Homo sapiens: one gene and its partners. The protein of the gene in region 5 purifies or fractionates together with the protein of the main gene of each other region. This does not show direct contact. Each region holds a gene or a part of one and is shown on either strand. Other genes may lie near its edges. The genes, in order: FKBP9, XPNPEP1, HK2, TRNT1 and H2AZ2.

Region 1 (2,516 bases), about 12 Mb from region 5:
GCTCTGACGGCTGCTGGGTATTGGCTACCTGAATAATAAGGGCTCTTGGAGTCATTTAGCACAAGGGTTTTTCACCTGCATTTAGAGAAAAAAAACAAAACACAGATCATAGGTCATATAGCTGCCAAAAAGATCTTGTCTGTGTTGGTAGCCCAGACTCAAGTTCCAGCCCTGTCACCCCCAGACTGCTCTGTTTCTGGCCCCAGGCCTGGCGTTCATGGCGGCTGAACTCATGGTCTTTCCTGTCCCCTTCTTTTCCAGTTCTCAGAGTACATTCACGCCCAGGTGGCATCTGGCAAAGGGAAACTCGCTCCTGGCTTTGATGCTGAGCTGATTGTGAAGAATATGTTCACCAACCAGGACCGGAATGGAGATGGGAAGGTCACAGCCGAGGAATTTAAACTCAAAGACCAGGAAGCCAAACACGATGAACTCTAAACCTGGCATGAACCAGATGGTGCCAGGGAGTACGTGACACCAAGCCACCTGTGTGGCAAGACGTGCAGTGAGGGTGCAAGGGTCTCTCAGAAGTTGCATCATTAGCCAGTAGTAGGTGGGTCACATAGTACCTGGTGTACACATCGGGGTGGGTTGATATATGGGGTGAGAAGTTTGGGCTGATCGCCAGTGATAGTAAACAAAATCTGTGCAGAGGGCCTTAGCATGGGATGTGTCCAGTATTGAAAAGGCTGCACTGCCAACCATGATTTGTGAGCCTTCTGGGAAATTTTGTTATTAAAGGAATATATAGTGTCAGACGGAAGTTATAATCATCTTGGAGGAACCATAAGAAAAGGTGTCCAGGGTATCTATATAAAGAGGGTTAAATTTTTTTTTAACTTGCTGGTTAAAACATTTTAGAAATATTCTAGAGATGGGCAGGAGAGTCAAAGGGCTTGCTTGCCCCAGCAGAGTTCCCAGCAGACAGCCATGGCTCTTCCCAGCAGCCTGTGCAAATTCTGATGATGGCCCCACCCCCGCACACGCACACGCACATCATGCTTTTCCAGCTCATCACACCCCGCCCCACTATGGGCCTACCATTAATAGTGTATAACTTGGAGGTTAAAAGAGCCTTTTGGACAGAAAACTGGGCCAGGAAAAGGCATCTCAGACCACAAATAGAGAATTTGATTCCTCATTTGCCACATAAGTCATCTGCTTAGCTTTTCCTTTCCTTTTTTTTTTTTTTTTTTTTTCTGGAGGCAGAGTCTCCCTTTGTCGCCAGGCTGGAGTGCAGTGGTGCCATCTCGGCTCACTGCAGCACTGTCTCGGCTCACTGCAGCCTCCGCCTCCCGTATTCAAGCGATTCTCCTGTCTCAGCCTCCTGAGTAGCTGGGACTACAGGTGTGCACCACCACGCCCGGCTAATTTTTGTATTTTTAGTAGAGACGGGGTTTCACTGTGTTGGCCAGGATGGTCTCAATCTCGACCTCGTGATCCGCCCACCTTGGCCTCCCAAAGTGTTGGGATTACAGGCGTGACTCACCATGCCCAGCCACTTAGTTTTTTCTTATTCCCACCTTTCTATCCCATAGAACACTCTTTTTTATCTTCCCTGAACCATATTGATGAGATAAATAGGGCTGGGGGCTGGGCCCCGCTGGTCACTCAACAGAGTATTTCCCTTGGCCGAGATGGAAGTTTTGTCCCAATAGATGAGCTGCTGAGCATCAACAAGGTGACATTTTTCTGCTGCCCATTTGTGTCCTGGAGACGGTGGTACCCTGAAGGCAGAGGCCAGCTGCCGCAAGACAGCAATGACAGTCCACCTGCCGACCTGATTCCTGCATCATGGAATAACCACATGGCTACCTTCTATCCTCTGTTCCCAAATGGTGGTGGCACTTATCCTGAAGTCGTCAATGATTTCCCTTTGAAACTACTTTATTTTACTAATTTAAACTATTTTGTACTGATGTAGCCCTGAGGTAGTTCATGAAAATGCTGTGCACTCATTCCATGGAATAAATGTTGGAAAGCTGATCTTTTCTGATATAAAATGTTGAATGATATTATCTGGTTTTCTGATATTTTATTGGAAGGCTGAAGACCTATGAGAATGCACCATGCAGTCAGAATCCCCTTGATGAAAACAGCAGGACTTCACTGCATTTACTGAGGGAGCGCACTCTACTTATAGGGAGTGTCAGTCAGGGTCCTGGCCCTCCTCTGGGACTCCTGAAGAGAAGCTAAGGAAAGGACTGTTTAGAGGGGTGTGGGCGAGGCTGGGGGAACTGAGGCTGTTGAGTGCCAGTGACAGCAGTGTTGGCCACCGCAGGAGGCTGCTACCACCAGGGCCTGAGAGCTCAAGAGGAGGCAGTGGGAGCAGCACAGGAAGGGCTACCTGGAGGCGTAACAGAGGGATGCAGCCAGCTGCATCTGACAGTGCGGCTGACACTGCAGCAGAGCGAGGGACAAACGCCCCATCCCCTCTGTGCCCCCATTCTCTGATGCCTGCCACTGGCTCCCATTAGTGGAACCATGTTGGAAGCCAGAGGGTAAGAGGAGCTCAG
Region 2 (3,521 bases), on a different chromosome or scaffold from region 5:
GCACAGCTGAGGGAACGCTAAGGGCTTTACATACATTAGTGGCTAATTCTCACAACAATCCTCCAAGGGAGGTTTCACTATTCTCATTTTACACATAAAGGAACAGGAGTTAAAAGGAGTTAAGTACTTGCCCAAAGTCAGCTGGTTCATCAGGAACCGGGACTCAAGGTCTATGCAATTCCCAAGTCCATGCTCTATTACACCATATTAGCTGGGGGACATAATAGAGCCTTAAAGTGTTCTAAGACCAACAGAAGCAAAACAAGTGAGCTCCAGTTTCCAGCTGGGATCTACAACCTCAGGCAACTGAAGCTACCTAACCTCTATTTCCTCATACATTACAAAAAGAAAAAGAAGTTATCTTCCAACTCTAAGTTTAATGATTCCATCACTTTTTTCCTTTCTTTACTTTCTCTTTTTCCTCCTTCCTCTGCTACCTCCTAATATGGTCCAAAATGTGTTGGATACATCTATATTTTTTAAAGAAAAAGGATCTAAAATTGCATGCAATTATAGCACTGATCTTCCAAACAGAGATTAGACGGGCATGGTTTCTTATGTACTTCAAGAGATCAATTTTTCAGTCAGCTAAAAAAAAAAAAAACACATGGTTCTCCTTAGTAGTCGTTAGAGCAGTACTGGCTTACTGGGATAGAAATACAGTAATACACCACTTTTCAGAATTCAGGTTTCTGGCAACCCATCAGACAATTAACCAGTTCTGGGGAGAAGGGACAGCCAAGAAATATTTCCCAAAAAGACTTTCCTAAATGCACACTCAATTTATAAAGGACAATAATATATTACAAGCTTTTCTCATTTTGCAATCTTATGATCAAAATTGAAAGCTAATTTCTAAGATAATGAAGGACTATATTAGAGAAATAGAGAACATTTTCCATAATAACCTATCTCCTTCTCCACCACCACCACTCTGACAAAAATGGAAAACGAAAAAAACAAACAACAAAAAAAAAGTTGTAATTCTCTAACTTACTACCTTAAAAAAAAATGGTAATGGCCAGGCGCAGTGGCTCATGCCTGTAATCCCAGCACTTTGGGAGGCCAAGGCGGGCAGATCACCTGAGGTCGGGAGTTCAAGACCAGCCTGGCCAACATGGAGAAACCCCATCTCTACTAAAAATACAAAATTAGCTGGGCGTGGTGTCGGGCGCCTGTAATCCCAGCTACTCCGGAGGCTGAGGCAGGAGAATCGCTTGAACCCGGGAGACGGAGGTTGCAGTGAGCCGAGATCACGCCATTGCACTCCAGGCTGGGTGACCAAGGGCGAGACTCCGTCTCAAAAAAAAAAAAAAAAAATGGTAAATATATAGAAACAGTAACCAACCACTTAGGAAGCCAAAAAATAAAATGGTTTTTAACTTCCAGATACTAACCCCCAGTCATGATCTGTTACTAATTCCTTACCCTCTTCTTCTCACCCAACCTGGGGTTGGGGTGGAGATCTAAAATCCTTTACAGATGTTCCATCTAATTTCCAGACAAAATTATTACCTGTTTCCACACCTGTGTCTCCTGAGTGTGTCACCTCGTTAGGTTCAATTATTCTTAAATTTCTCAGTTGAAAATCCTGGTGATTCACCCTTAAGGAGAGAAAGAACAGGAAGTTGCAGACTTTGACCACAATAAACGTGGCAAGGCTCAGTTAGAGGAGGCATCGCTTAACTTAGCAGTTCTCTAACATGAGTCAGAAGAACTTTCACCCCCATTATCAGTGGCAGAATAAATAAAAGTTTGATGTAAAACTTGCAGGTGTAAAACATCCCCATGGCAGGTTAACCTTCTCAGTTGCAGCTTCTAGTTCATAAATTCTCACACCTCCTATTTAACTAGACTAAGAAGACTTATTTTCAATGTTTTTTCCTTACACAAGTTCTATTTGGTTCTTTTTCACATCTGCCCGTTCTTTCTTTATGGTGTCCTATTCTTGCACTCTGGTTTCTATGCCTTCTCTTTGTGCCTTCATTACTGTAGGCCCTTATTTTATAATTTCTCCCATACTTTCAAATAGATCTTGGGAGACTAACCCTCATGTTTGCTAGGTCTGCTGCCTCTCCCTCTTGGTGGTTCATTCCTTCTGCGTTTTGTGATCTTTTATTAAGAGCTTATCTTCAATAGAGGCTATTTATCTATGAGAATGTGATGGGTCCTGGTTTGTACAAGCAGTTCTGTTATTGTTTGCTTCTAAGACTTTCACATTAATTTATTAGCTAGAAGATTTACACACAAACTTCTTGTTCCCATATGGGGATAGTCTAATGCCCTGGACACCAGGCATGAAGGTCTATATCTGCATCTGGTAACTTTCCCAGGCTCAGGTTACTAGCATACCACTCAGGCGTTAGGTTCCCTCTACATTTTTGGCACTTGAGGATTTCTCTTTCTTTCAAGTTCATTCAGTCAACAAATATTTATTGAAAAATCTTCCATAATCCAGGCCCTATTCTGGACACAACAGTGAACAAAACAGACAAGATCTCTGACTTTAACAAATTAAGATGGGGCAAGGCAGGGGGATGGGCAGAAGACAGGGAAGAGAAGGCAACAGACACAAAACAAGTACACAATACGTCAAGTAATAAGAACGTGTTTTGTGAAAAAAAGTAAAGCACAGCAAGGGGAAGAAAGCATCAAGGAGGTAAGGGGAAGGATTATTTCATATGGGGTAGCCAGGGACAGCCTCTATTATAACAGACAACATTTTAACACAGACCTAAAAAGAGTGAGGAAGCAAGCCATGTGAACGGCTAGGGGAACAATGTTCCAGGACAACAGCAAGTGCAAAGGCCATGAGGCAGGAGTATGTCTAGTTTACCTGAGGAAAAGCAAGAAGGTCAGCGCAGTGTGATTGTATCAGGGGATGGGGAGGTAAGTGGTTCAGAGACAACATCATTGAGGCACCAGGGGGCCTACTGTGGGGCCATAGAAAAGGTTTTGAATTTTACTCAGCTATGAACTCAATTAAGTTATAATTTAACCGCATTTTTACATGTTGGTAAAGACAGAGAGGGACACATTAGCTCAGTCTACCACACGGTAAGAACCAGATAACCAGGCAGCTTTACCAATGACTCTAGGCCTGCTTTCATATGGCTGTGACTTTAGTTTTACTGGACAGAATGGGATGTTCTTAACGAGAGTAAACATATTATTCTTTCATAAAAAAGTAAGACACCCCAATATGTCTTCTAAAATATAAATACAAATATCCTCAACAAAATACCAGCAAACGGAATCTAGAACAATATAAAAAGGATCATCATCGCCAAGTGGGTCTTATCCCAGGAATACAAGGTTGGCTCAATATATGAAAAATCAATTATTATAACAGGCCATATCAATAGAATAAAGAACAAAATCTACATGGTCTTCTCAACAAACGCAGAAAAAGCACGACAAAATCCAATGCCCCTTCAAGTTAAAAGTACTCAGCAAACTAGAAGAAAAATTCCTCAACCTGACAAAAGTTATTACAAAACCTACAGCTAACATCATTCTTA
Region 3 (3,521 bases), on a different chromosome or scaffold from region 5:
GGCCTACTTCTGATTATGAATCTTTAAACTATAATCCATGTATTATATACACTATTTGGAATGGCTGATAATTCACTATAAAGTAACAAAGGAAAGAGAGAAAGAAAAGGGAAAGAACAAAGACAGAAAGAAGGTAGGCAGGGGGGGCTGGGATCAGGCACTCACTGAGGATGTAGCTTGTAGAGGGTCCCATCCACACCCACTGTCACTTTGAGAGCGTCCAGCCCACGGTTTTCTCGTATCCTGTCCACCACAGCGGCCATGCCTGCGCCACAGAGCTGGGCTGCCCGCCGGGCCACCACAGTGCACACCTCCTTAACAATGATGCTGTCGTCACAGGTGCTCTCAAGCCCTAAGTGTTGCAGGATGGCTCGGACTTGCAGCAGGGCCAGGCAGTCACTGGGGTGGGAGGGAGACAGCAAGTGTTCAGTCATGCACCAAGAAGGCTGGTAGCCTACCACACCAGGGCCTGAGTCCTTACAGGGGAGGCTCTGTGGGGGTCTAGCTCTCCAGGAGCTGGCCCCTCGAGGTGGTTCCCATTCCTAAATTCAGACCACTGCTCAACCTACTGCACTGCATTGACTCTTCCTGACGGTGACAGGAATACAAACAGCTCCTCATTCTACTCTCCCTACTCCAGATAGACCATTACTACTACAAAGTAGATACTCAAAACAAAGCAAATTCACTGTTTATCACAGTGGTCAGTTACAAAGCTCTTTCATGTCCATTTTCTCGCTGCTGTTCATGGGTTTGCAGGGCAGGAACTAACCAAGCAGCATTAGACTCGTGCTTTATTTCTGCTCTGCTGCTCTGGGTGGTCTGAACTGTATTTATATGCTATTTACGAAGGAAGTGTAAATAAAGTTATAGAAAGAAAATAAACCCTCCTATATAAAGAAAGCTATTTTAGAAGCCTGGAATCACCTCGCTGAACATAACAGACCTATAAGCTAGAATATATCTTTCTATTCACTGGTGCAGATGCCCGAGGGGTCTACTCACATCAGTTGTCTAGTTCCTGTTCTTCTCTGCCCTGAGAGTAATGGCACAGCATTAATTTTTAAAGGGCTCTGAAATTCACTGTTCTAATTTGGAGATTTTCCACCATTTGACTGTAGGAGGGAGGCTTTGCTCTAATGAGCCACTGTGTGGCATGTGTCTGCATTGCCTGACGTTCCAACCTTTACTCAATCCTGGCTGCCTGATTACTGCAGCCAGCAGTTAGGAAGGGCTTTCAAGCCAAGTGTGGATGCTTTAATAGGTTATCTTCCTCTGTGCGTTTCAATTTACATGCTATGAGCAGGTATCTTTCTACCTTTGATACATGGTCTAAAACCCAACAATATCACTTTGCATGACCTCAGGCCAGGCTTAGCACAAACTTTCATGAGAATGCTCTGTTTGCCCTTAAAATGACAACTGCCCATAATGTGCTTTTAGTAAACACTATAGACATGAATGTGTTTGCCACTAAACTGACTTTTGTATGAGTCATGCCCTGAGTTATGGAAATCCTTCAGTTTGTCTGCCAGTGAGAAAAAAGGACATGGCCCCCCTGCTACCCTGAGCCCTAAGCTCTCACCTCTCAATCTGAGACAAGAACTTGGTTTCAAAGATGCCCCTTGTCTTGAGCCGCTCTGAGATGCGGCCTCGGAAGAGTAGTCCACGCTTGGTGAAATCGATGAGAATGTTACGGACAATCTCACCCAGGTACATTCCACTGATCATTTTCTCGAACCTGCAATGCAAGTAACATTCATGGAGGTTAAGTAGGAAGGTGGAGGGATGTGTTGAGACAGGACAGGCCAGCTTAGTCACCCCCAGTGCATCAGCAGTGGCAGACAGGCAGACTCCCCTGATGGGAAAGGAATTGCTACTTGATTCACTTGGGCAGGATCCCTGGTGTCTTTGCATGCTAATTCACAACCTTCAGCAACACTGACCACAGTGCCCGAGGCCCGTGGGGCTCCTGGGGAAATAAGCCTTGGAAAGGAACCCACAGGGAAAGGAACTCATTTCCTTTCCAAGGCTTATTTCGAAATTTCAAGAAGCAACTCGAGAAGGAACACACCATAACCCCACTGGACTTCTCGGAGCAGGGGAGAATGCTGAGTCTTAATCTTTAACCTCACTAGGCATTCAGTATACATTCTCTTGGACCTAACCATCATTACTCAAGTAACTACTGCCAGCTGTAGGGCCCCCATCCTGGCCACTGGAACTAAACGTTATTATGCAGTGGCTTGAGGGTCTTTTGGTCCTGAATCCTGCCTTGAAAAAAAAACGAGGTCCCTAGTTTCAACCAATAGCCCATCACCACCCCATCTTATCTTGACCCAGCCTGCTTCCTTCATTAATGTTGCCTGCCTGGCCCCTAGAGGCATTTTAGTCTGTAACTTCTATTCTAGACACATGTTTTGCAAAGCGTATTCTGCAGGACTAGGGTGTTTGATTAATCTAGTTAGGAAACACTACAGACAACATCTTAATGAGAAGTGTGTTAGATCTTAAGCTATTGTCTCTTAGCTCAGACCCCGCTCCCCTACCATGCACAGGACCTTGTGACACTGGGGCTGGCCCCTTGCTCAATTCTGACAGTAGGTGGTGCTCGGCGCTGGAAGATGGAGGAGGGAGAGGATTTGCTCCTGTCTGCATCACCCAAGAGATGCTCTTCAGCCTGTCAGCAGCAGGTGCTTCAACTTTCTACTTGTTTCTCCTTAGAGTGCCAGACCTAGGGTCTAGTATTCTCCCACCTGTTCTCCTAGGCTTTTGGGTGGGAGATGCTTCTTACATTTACTAACTCAGAACTTTCCAGGTGCATTCGACAAGAAACCCTTTCCAAGAAAACCTCCTTTATTAACATCTCACGAGAACCGGCGTCCTGGGAGATGCCATTGTGGAAGCTCTGATCACTTGTTGCCATCCAGTCCTGGGATACACTTAACAGGGCCCCAGTTGGGTGCCTACCTCTGCTTGCCGGGGTTGAGTGAAAGCTCATCCACAGCCACATCAAATTCTGTGCGGAAGTCATCTAGGCATCCATTGTCCCCGAAGGCCCCCCATTCCATGTTCACACACATCCGCCCCTCTTCTCCTTCCACCAGTTCCACGTTGCGCATCTCCTCCATGTAGCAGGCATTGCTGCCCGTGCCTGCCAATCACAGGATACCAGGGCCTCACTCAGCACCAACCCCTCCACACCCAAGGCTGTGCATCCCCATGTGGAAAGGACAGTCTGGGTCCTTACCAACAATGAGGCCAACTTCACAGTGAGGGTCTTCAAAGCCACAGGTCATCATAGTTCCGACTGTGTCGTTCACCACAGCAACCACATCCAGGTCAAACTCCTGAGAGGGAAGAAGCAGATGCCCAGTTCACAGGTGAACCCCAATATTCTCCTTTCAGACAATTGCATGGGAGATTTACAGGTATATAAAATATATATCATACACCATGGCTGACCCTCTCATTCCATTCAGGTCTGTGCTTAAATGTCACCTCTTTGGTGAGACCCTCCC
Region 4 (3,521 bases), on a different chromosome or scaffold from region 5:
ACTGAAGGAAGAAGGAAATAGGAGTTGCCTCCATTGTGCACGTTGCAAAACCTGTCTGGAAGGAGCATAGGAAATGGCTTTAGCTAAGTGCCAGTAGCTTCTTGCTGTTGCCACAGTTTCATTAGTGTTGATTCTCAATGTTGTCTGCTGATGTTGCTAAAGCAGCCACACAGTAGCATTACAAAGCCTGTGGGAATTTTAATAGCACCTTCATAAATATATTTAGTAGTATATGTAGAAATATGACCTATACAGCACTGGCTATCTATTAGATTCACCTGGGGAGCTTTTAAAGCACACATGCTCGGGTTCTACCTGCAGCCTACTGAATTAGAATCTCTGGGTGGGATGACCATCTATATTTTTAATAAAAGCTCCACAAGTTAATTCTGATGCACAGAAGATAGACGAACCATTACTTTAACATGACTCACCTTGTATTAGCTTATTCTCAAAGCTACTTTCCCATTCTTGAAATTGGATGATGGCTTTTTAGGTACGTGCCAGAGATAAATGGCCCAGAATATGTTGATTCTTTTAGATTGTTTTAGGCAGACTTTAAGTAGAGGGCTTAAATGCATGTTTGGTTTTGCCGATGCTTCACTATCTTTTTTAATTGGAGAGAGTGAAAATTGCTAAAAATTGCTGTCCAATAGAAATTTATGAGCCCATATGTAATATAAACTTTTTTACTAACCACATTAAAAAGATAGAAATGGTGAAATAAATTTTAATAATTATTTTTGGTTCATCTAATTTAATCCAATATATCTAAGATACTATCAGTATGAATTTTGTATAAAAATTGTTAATGAGGCCGGGCACAGTGTCTCCCACCTGTAATCCTAGCACTTTGGGAGGCTGGACATGGTGGCTCATACCTGTAATCCCAGCACTTTTGAGTGGCTGAGGTGGGTGGATCACTTGAGCCCAGGAGTTTGAGACCAGCCTGGGCAACACGGTGAAACCCCATCTCTACTAAAAATATGAAAAATAGGCAAGCATACTGATATGTGTCTGTAGTCCCTGCTACTTGGGAGGCTGAGGTGGGAGGATCACTGAAGCCTGGGAGGGGGGCTTGCGGTAAGCCGAGATTGTGCCACTACACTCCAGCCTGGGCGACACAGACCGTGTCTTTAAAAAAAAAAAAAAATTAATGAGATATTTTATATTCTTACTTGGAAGTCTTTGAAGTCTGGCATGCATTTAATACAGCACATCTGAATTCAGACTTACCACATTTTAAGTGCTCAGTAAGTACAAGTGGCTGCTGTTTGAATAGTGCAGATTTTGAAGCTGTGATTTTGGGTTGAGTTGAAGCTTTTTTCTTTCTGTGTATGCCCTTCACAGCCCCCAATTTTTCAACTTCAATTGCAAGAGGCCTCTTGGAAGAAGGAGTAGTAATTAACTCTTGATGGCCTAACTCAGGTCATTCTGCATTTTTTGGAAATAAGGTTCTAAATATTGATTACTATAGTTTCTTGAACATCATTTTAACAATTGTGTTTAACGTTCTAAACCTGAAACTGGCTAGCCATATGTAGAAAGCTGAAACTGGATCCCTTCCTTACACCTTATACAAAAATCAATTCAAGATGGATTAAAGATTTAAACGTTAGACCTAAAACCATAAAAACCCTAGAAGAAAACCTAGGCATTACCATTCAGGACATAGGCGTGGGCGAGGACTTCATGTCCAAAACACCAAAAGCAATGGCAACAAAAGCCAGAATTGACAAATGGGATCTAATTAAACTAAAGAGCTTCTGCACAGCAAAAGAAACTACCATCAGAGTGAACAGGCAACCCACAACATGGGAGAAAATTTTCGCAACCTACTCATCTGACAAAGGGCTAATATCCAGAATCTACAATGAACTCAAACAAATTTACAAGAAAAAAACAAACAACCCCATCAAAAAGTGGGCGAAGGACATGAACAGACACTTCTCAAAAGAAGACATTTATGCAGCCAAAAAACACATGAAAAAATGCTCATCATCACTGGCCATCAGAGAAATGCAAATCAAAACCACTATGAGATATCATCTCACACCAGTTAGAATGGCAATCATTAAAAAGTCAGGAAACAACAGGTGCTGGAGAGGATGTGGAGAAATAGGAACACTTTTACACTGTTGGTGGGACTGTAAACTAGTTCAACCATTGTGGAAGTCAGTGTGGCGATTCCTCAGGGATCTAGAACTAGAAATACCATTTGACCCAGCCATCCCATTACTGGGTATATACCCAAAGGACTATAAATCATGCTGCTATAAAGAGACATGCACACGTATGTTTATTGCGGCACTATTCACAATAGCAAAGACTTGGAACCAACCCAAATGTCCAACAATGATAGACTGGATTAAGAAAATGTGGCACATATACACCATGGAATACTATGCAGCCATAAAAAATGATGAGTTCATGTCCTTTGTAGGGACATGGATGAAACTGGAAACCATCATTCTCAGTAAACTATCGCAAGAACAAAAAACCAAACACCGCATATTCTCACTCATAGGTGGGAATTGAACAATGAGATCACATGGACACAGGAAGGGGAATATCACACTCTGGGGACTGTGGTGGGGTCGGGGGAGGGGGGAGGGATAGCATTGGGAGATATACCTAATGCTAGATGACACGTTAGTGGGTGCAGCGCACCAGCATGGCACATGTATACATATGTAACTAACCTGCACAATGTGCACATGTACCCTAAAACTTAGAGTATAATAAAAAAAAAAAAATTAAAAAAATAAAAAAAAACATATACCTATTGAAGGAAAAAAAAAAAAACACAAAAAAAAAACACTGGATTTTCTCCACCCTGAGAAATGAGGTCCTAAGGAAGTTAGAGCCTAAATGGTGTGGTAAGGTAGAGGTGGTGATTGCTTCCAGAGTCCTGTCCTTGAAGGACTGGCAAATGAGAACATGGATATATTCTAAAGTTGACTTTTTCTAGGCTACTGGAGAAGTGGCAAGAATGGAATCTTTTAGTGCAATGATCAACAAGTTAGAATGTCAAAGACTTGGGTGCCCTGGTAAAATGTAATGTTCTGTATAAAATCAAAATGTACAAAAACACACAGCCTTTCTGATGGCTGCTATATAGTGATACTTGGAGTTTAAATCCTGTACCAATTTTCAAATCTTAATAGCTGCTTTGCCATGTGTAAAATTAGTTTTCAGTATGCAAGAATATGAGAGACTAGAATAGTGTATTATTGTCATATCATAAGGGTTTTATAATTTGTCAGGTTATTTTATGTATCTTTTTGCTTCAGTACAATCATATGCTAGTGGCATAGAAGATTATTTCCCAGCTAGCTGTGGTAGCTCATGCCTATAATCTCCCAGCACTTTGGGAGGCCGAGATGGGAGAATTGCTTGAGCCCAGGAGTTAGAGACCAGCCTGAGCAACATAGTGAAATCCCATCTGTACAAAAATAATAATAATAAATTTAGCCAGTTACAGTGATGCACACCTGTAGTCCCAGCTACTCAGGAGGCTG
Region 5 (3,521 bases):
GGCTCACTGCAACCTCCGCCTCCCGGGTTCAGGCGATTCTCCTGCCTCAGCCTCCTGAGTAGGTGGGATTATAGGCGCGCCAGGACGCCTGGCTGTTTTGTATTTTTAGTAGAGACAGGGTTTTGAGTGATCTGTCCACCTTAGCCTCCCAAAGTGCTGGGATTACAGGCATGAGCCACTGTGCCCCGCCAGTCTGTGCCTTTCTTACAGGCCTCCCTCAACCCTTCACTGCTCCATTATTTCAACAGCTACAATTACTTCCTTTCCGCTGGTTCCTTTCCTTCTACAGACTTTACTGAAAACTTCACAATCTATGAAAACTGCTTCCAGTTACAGTCTAGACAGTCTCTTTCCAAAGACTGAATTGAAAAAACAAATCCTGAAACCCTTACTTCCTTGTCACCCATTTTTCCTAACCCTAACTTGACCTTTGAAGGCCAGCAGTGACATTTTACTTCCTTAATAAAAACAAGCAATCTTTTTTTTGCATTTATACTTCATCTCTAAGTGACCAAAAGCTTCTTAAGGGCAAGATTTATGTCTTCTTTTCCTTTGTATCCTTAGTAACCAGTATGTTGTCTGGCATACAGTAGGCCCTCAAAAACATTTCATCTTAGACTTCAGAGTTCTCATACCAAGTCTGACTACTCCTCAGCCTTTTCTTAAAGTTTTTCAGGGGTCCACCAACGTCCCTGTGCTCCTTTCTCATTCTCTTAGGTTAGGAAACTCATCCATAACATAAACTATCCATTTTACATAAATGATCTCAAATTCCTAATTCTATCACCTCTATTAGAAAGCTGAACTCATGTTTCCAACTTCTGGACATTTTCACATGGATGTTTTAGTGAACTTCAAAATGATTCCATTTAAATTTACTCATAACTTGCCCCTACTACAAACTCCTCTGTTCCTTAGGTTCTAAGCCTTAGAGAAACCTGTGACTTTCTCTCAACCTTATACTGCTTCACCTATTTTCTGCACACACATGCTTTCTACTCCTTCCCATTCAAGTATGTTACTTTATTCCTAAACCACTGCAAAAACCTCCATTGGCCTTCCATTTTCTACTTCAAATTAAGTATGCCTTAAAATAAATTCTAATTGGGAATATACATGGAGACCTAAAATACAGAATGTGCATATCAGTTTAAGTTCCCATCCCCCTTCTTTCGGTATCATCTGGATAATGTTGTCCTCTGGCTCAAACTCTCAATGGCTTACCACTGCCAAGAGGATAACAGTTTACAGCTTAGCCTTCCTGATTAAAAGGGTTTCTCAGCCAGGCGCGGTGGCTCATGCCTGTAATTCCAGCCCTCTGGGAGGCTGAGGCAGGCAGATCACGAGGTCAAGAGATTGAGACCATCTTGGCCAACATGGTGAAATCCCGTCTCTACTAAAAATACAAAAACTAGCTGGGTATGGTGGCGCACGCCTGCAGTCCCAGCTATGTGGGAGCCTGAGGCAGGAGAATCGCTTGAATCCAGGAGGCAGAGGTTGCAGTGAGCCGAGATTGCACCACTGCACTCCAGCCTGACGACAGAGTGAGACTCTGTCTCAAAAAAAAAAAAAAAAAAAAAAAAAAAAAAAAAAAAAAGTCTGTAGTAATACAAGTAGATTTTTGTAATTGATGAAACATAGGTCATAAATTACAACAGTAAAGAAAATAATAATGTAATGACAGCATGGATTCATTACCTGTAGCCCAGCTCTCTGTGAGCGAGATACTGCCTTAGCCTTGGCCTTCCCACTGTCCTTTCCAGCTTTGCCTCCAGCCTAAATGCAAAAAAAAATTTTTTTGAATGAAAAGAGTTGAAAATACTACTTCAAAAATATTCTGGAAACAGAATTTTTTCTAGTTTTACTTTAGGTAGTTAACAATATGTAGGTGATCCCCTTCCTCATTTGTAAATATACATGGGATTCTATCACCTTTTATAATTTCTATCAAAGAAATCAAACCTTAAACACTTATTTAAAATATTTTTCTTTTTTCTTGAGATGGAGTCTAGCTCTGTTGCCCAGGCTGGAGTGCAGTGGTGCGACCTTGACTCACTGCAAACTCCACCTCCTGGGCTCAAGCGATTCTCCTGCCTCAGCCTCCTGAGTAGCTGAGATTACAGGCGCACACCACCACACATGGCTAATTTTTGTATTTTTAGTAGAGGTGGGTTTCACTATGTTGGCCAAGCTGGTCTTGAACTCCTGACCTCAAGTGATCCGCCCGCCTAGGCCTCCCAAAGTGCTGGGATTACAGGCATAAGCCACAGTGCCAGGCTGAAAAATATGAGATTTTTAAAAACAAACATATTTATCAATTTCCAGATTAAAGAATCTTGCAAGTCAATATAACTTTTATGCATACATGAAATATTTCACAATTTTTATCAATGTCAATGTAACATATATTACTTCCACAGAAATATTTAGAACTTAGCTCTCAGAAAAATAAAGCATGTTCCAAGAAAAAAAAAAAAAACCTCAAAAAATTAAACACAGAATTGTCATATAGTCTAGCAATTCCACTTCTAGGTATACACCTAAAAATTGAAAGCAAGGATTCAAACAAATACATGTATACCCACGTTCACAGAAGCATTATTCAGAATAGCCAAAAGGTAGAAACAATCTTGAGTGTCCAATGATGGATGAACAAAATGATATACATATAATGGAATAGTATTCAGCTTTAAAAAGGAAATTCTGACACAAGCTACAACATGAATGGGCCTTGAGGACATTATGCTAAGGAAAATAAGCCAGTTACAAAAAAGACAAATACTGTATGATTCTACTTATGAGGTCCCTAAAATAGTAAAGTTCATGGTCAGAAAGCAGATTTGTGGTTGCCAGGGGTAGCTGCCTCCTGGGTTCAAGTGATTCTCCTGCCTCAGCCTCCTAAGTAGCTGGTAGTATAGGTGCGCGCCACCATGCCCTGCTAATTTTTGTATTTTTAGTACCAACAAGGTTTCTGCATGTTGGCCAGGCTGGTCTTGAACTCCTGACCTCAAGTGATCTGCCTGTCTCATCCTCCCAAAGTACTGGGATTACAGGCGTGAGCCACTGCGCCTGGCCGAGTTATTGTTGAATGGGTAGAGTTTCCACTTGGGAAGATGAAAAAGTTCTAGAGGCAGAAGGCAGTGATGGTTGCACACTATAAATGTACTTAATGCCACTGAACTGTACGCTTTAAAAAAACCTATTTCTGCATGAAAAAGGCAAAGTATGTGCCAATGTAATGAGCTTTTAAGTAAATATGGGGTATTATAGAGTATATGTGTACACATGTATTTCTAGTAGGTGACACAATAAATTAGAAATGTTATTTGCCTCTCGGGAGGAAATACTAAAGGTCTGACTTAAGAAAACTAATTTTCTCTCATATATTTTGCTTTTACCATTTAAACAGATTATTTCTTTACTGTTAAAAAAAGAAATCAGTTTACAAGATTGGCTGTTTGAGGGGCTATTCTTTCAAAATAGATGGTAAGCTTTGAAATGGCATATCCCCTTTGTAGCTA

The links.
Region 1: the proteins of H2AZ2 (region 5) and FKBP9 fractionate together in Homo sapiens (co-fractionation; one large-scale study listed by BioGRID). This does not show direct contact.
Region 2: the proteins of H2AZ2 (region 5) and XPNPEP1 fractionate together in Homo sapiens (co-fractionation; one large-scale study listed by BioGRID). This does not show direct contact.
Region 3: the proteins of H2AZ2 (region 5) and HK2 fractionate together in Homo sapiens (co-fractionation; one large-scale study listed by BioGRID). This does not show direct contact.
Region 4: the proteins of H2AZ2 (region 5) and TRNT1 fractionate together in Homo sapiens (co-fractionation; one large-scale study listed by BioGRID). This does not show direct contact.

The regions. Positions count from the first base shown.
Region 1 is NC_000007.14:33,004,914-33,007,429, forward strand, and holds the end of FKBP9 (peptidyl-prolyl cis-trans isomerase FKBP9 isoform 1 precursor), read left to right. Parts: intron 1-261; coding exon 262-438; 3' UTR 439-2,015; downstream 2,016-2,516. UniProt on the Homo sapiens protein: PPIases accelerate the folding of proteins during protein synthesis.
Region 2 is NC_000010.11:109,913,496-109,917,016, forward strand, and holds part of XPNPEP1 (xaa-Pro aminopeptidase 1), read right to left. Parts: intron 1,605-3,521; coding exon 1,516-1,604; intron 1-1,515. UniProt on the Homo sapiens protein: Metalloaminopeptidase that catalyzes the removal of a penultimate prolyl residue from the N-termini of peptides, such as Arg-Pro-Pro. Contributes to the degradation of bradykinin.
Region 3 is NC_000002.12:74,886,123-74,889,643, reverse strand, and holds part of HK2 (hexokinase-2), read right to left. Parts: intron 3,351-3,521; coding exon 3,251-3,350; intron 3,155-3,250; coding exon 2,971-3,154; intron 1,742-2,970; coding exon 1,586-1,741; intron 400-1,585; coding exon 166-399; intron 1-165. UniProt on the Homo sapiens protein: Catalyzes the phosphorylation of hexose, such as D-glucose and D-fructose, to hexose 6-phosphate (D-glucose 6-phosphate and D-fructose 6-phosphate, respectively).
Region 4 is NC_000003.12:3,129,940-3,133,460, forward strand, and holds part of TRNT1 (CCA tRNA nucleotidyltransferase 1, mitochondrial), read left to right. Parts: exon of another isoform or gene 1-740; intron 741-3,521. UniProt on the Homo sapiens protein: Nucleotidyltransferase that catalyzes the addition and repair of the essential 3'-terminal CCA sequence in tRNAs, which is necessary for the attachment of amino acids to the 3' terminus of tRNA molecules, using CTP and ATP as substrates. tRNA 3'-terminal CCA addition is required both for tRNA processing and repair.
Region 5 is NC_000007.14:44,841,579-44,845,099, forward strand, and holds part of H2AZ2 (histone H2A.V), read right to left. Parts: intron 1,777-3,521; coding exon 1,699-1,776; intron 1-1,698. UniProt on the Homo sapiens protein: Variant histone H2A which replaces conventional H2A in a subset of nucleosomes. Nucleosomes wrap and compact DNA into chromatin, limiting DNA accessibility to the cellular machineries which require DNA as a template.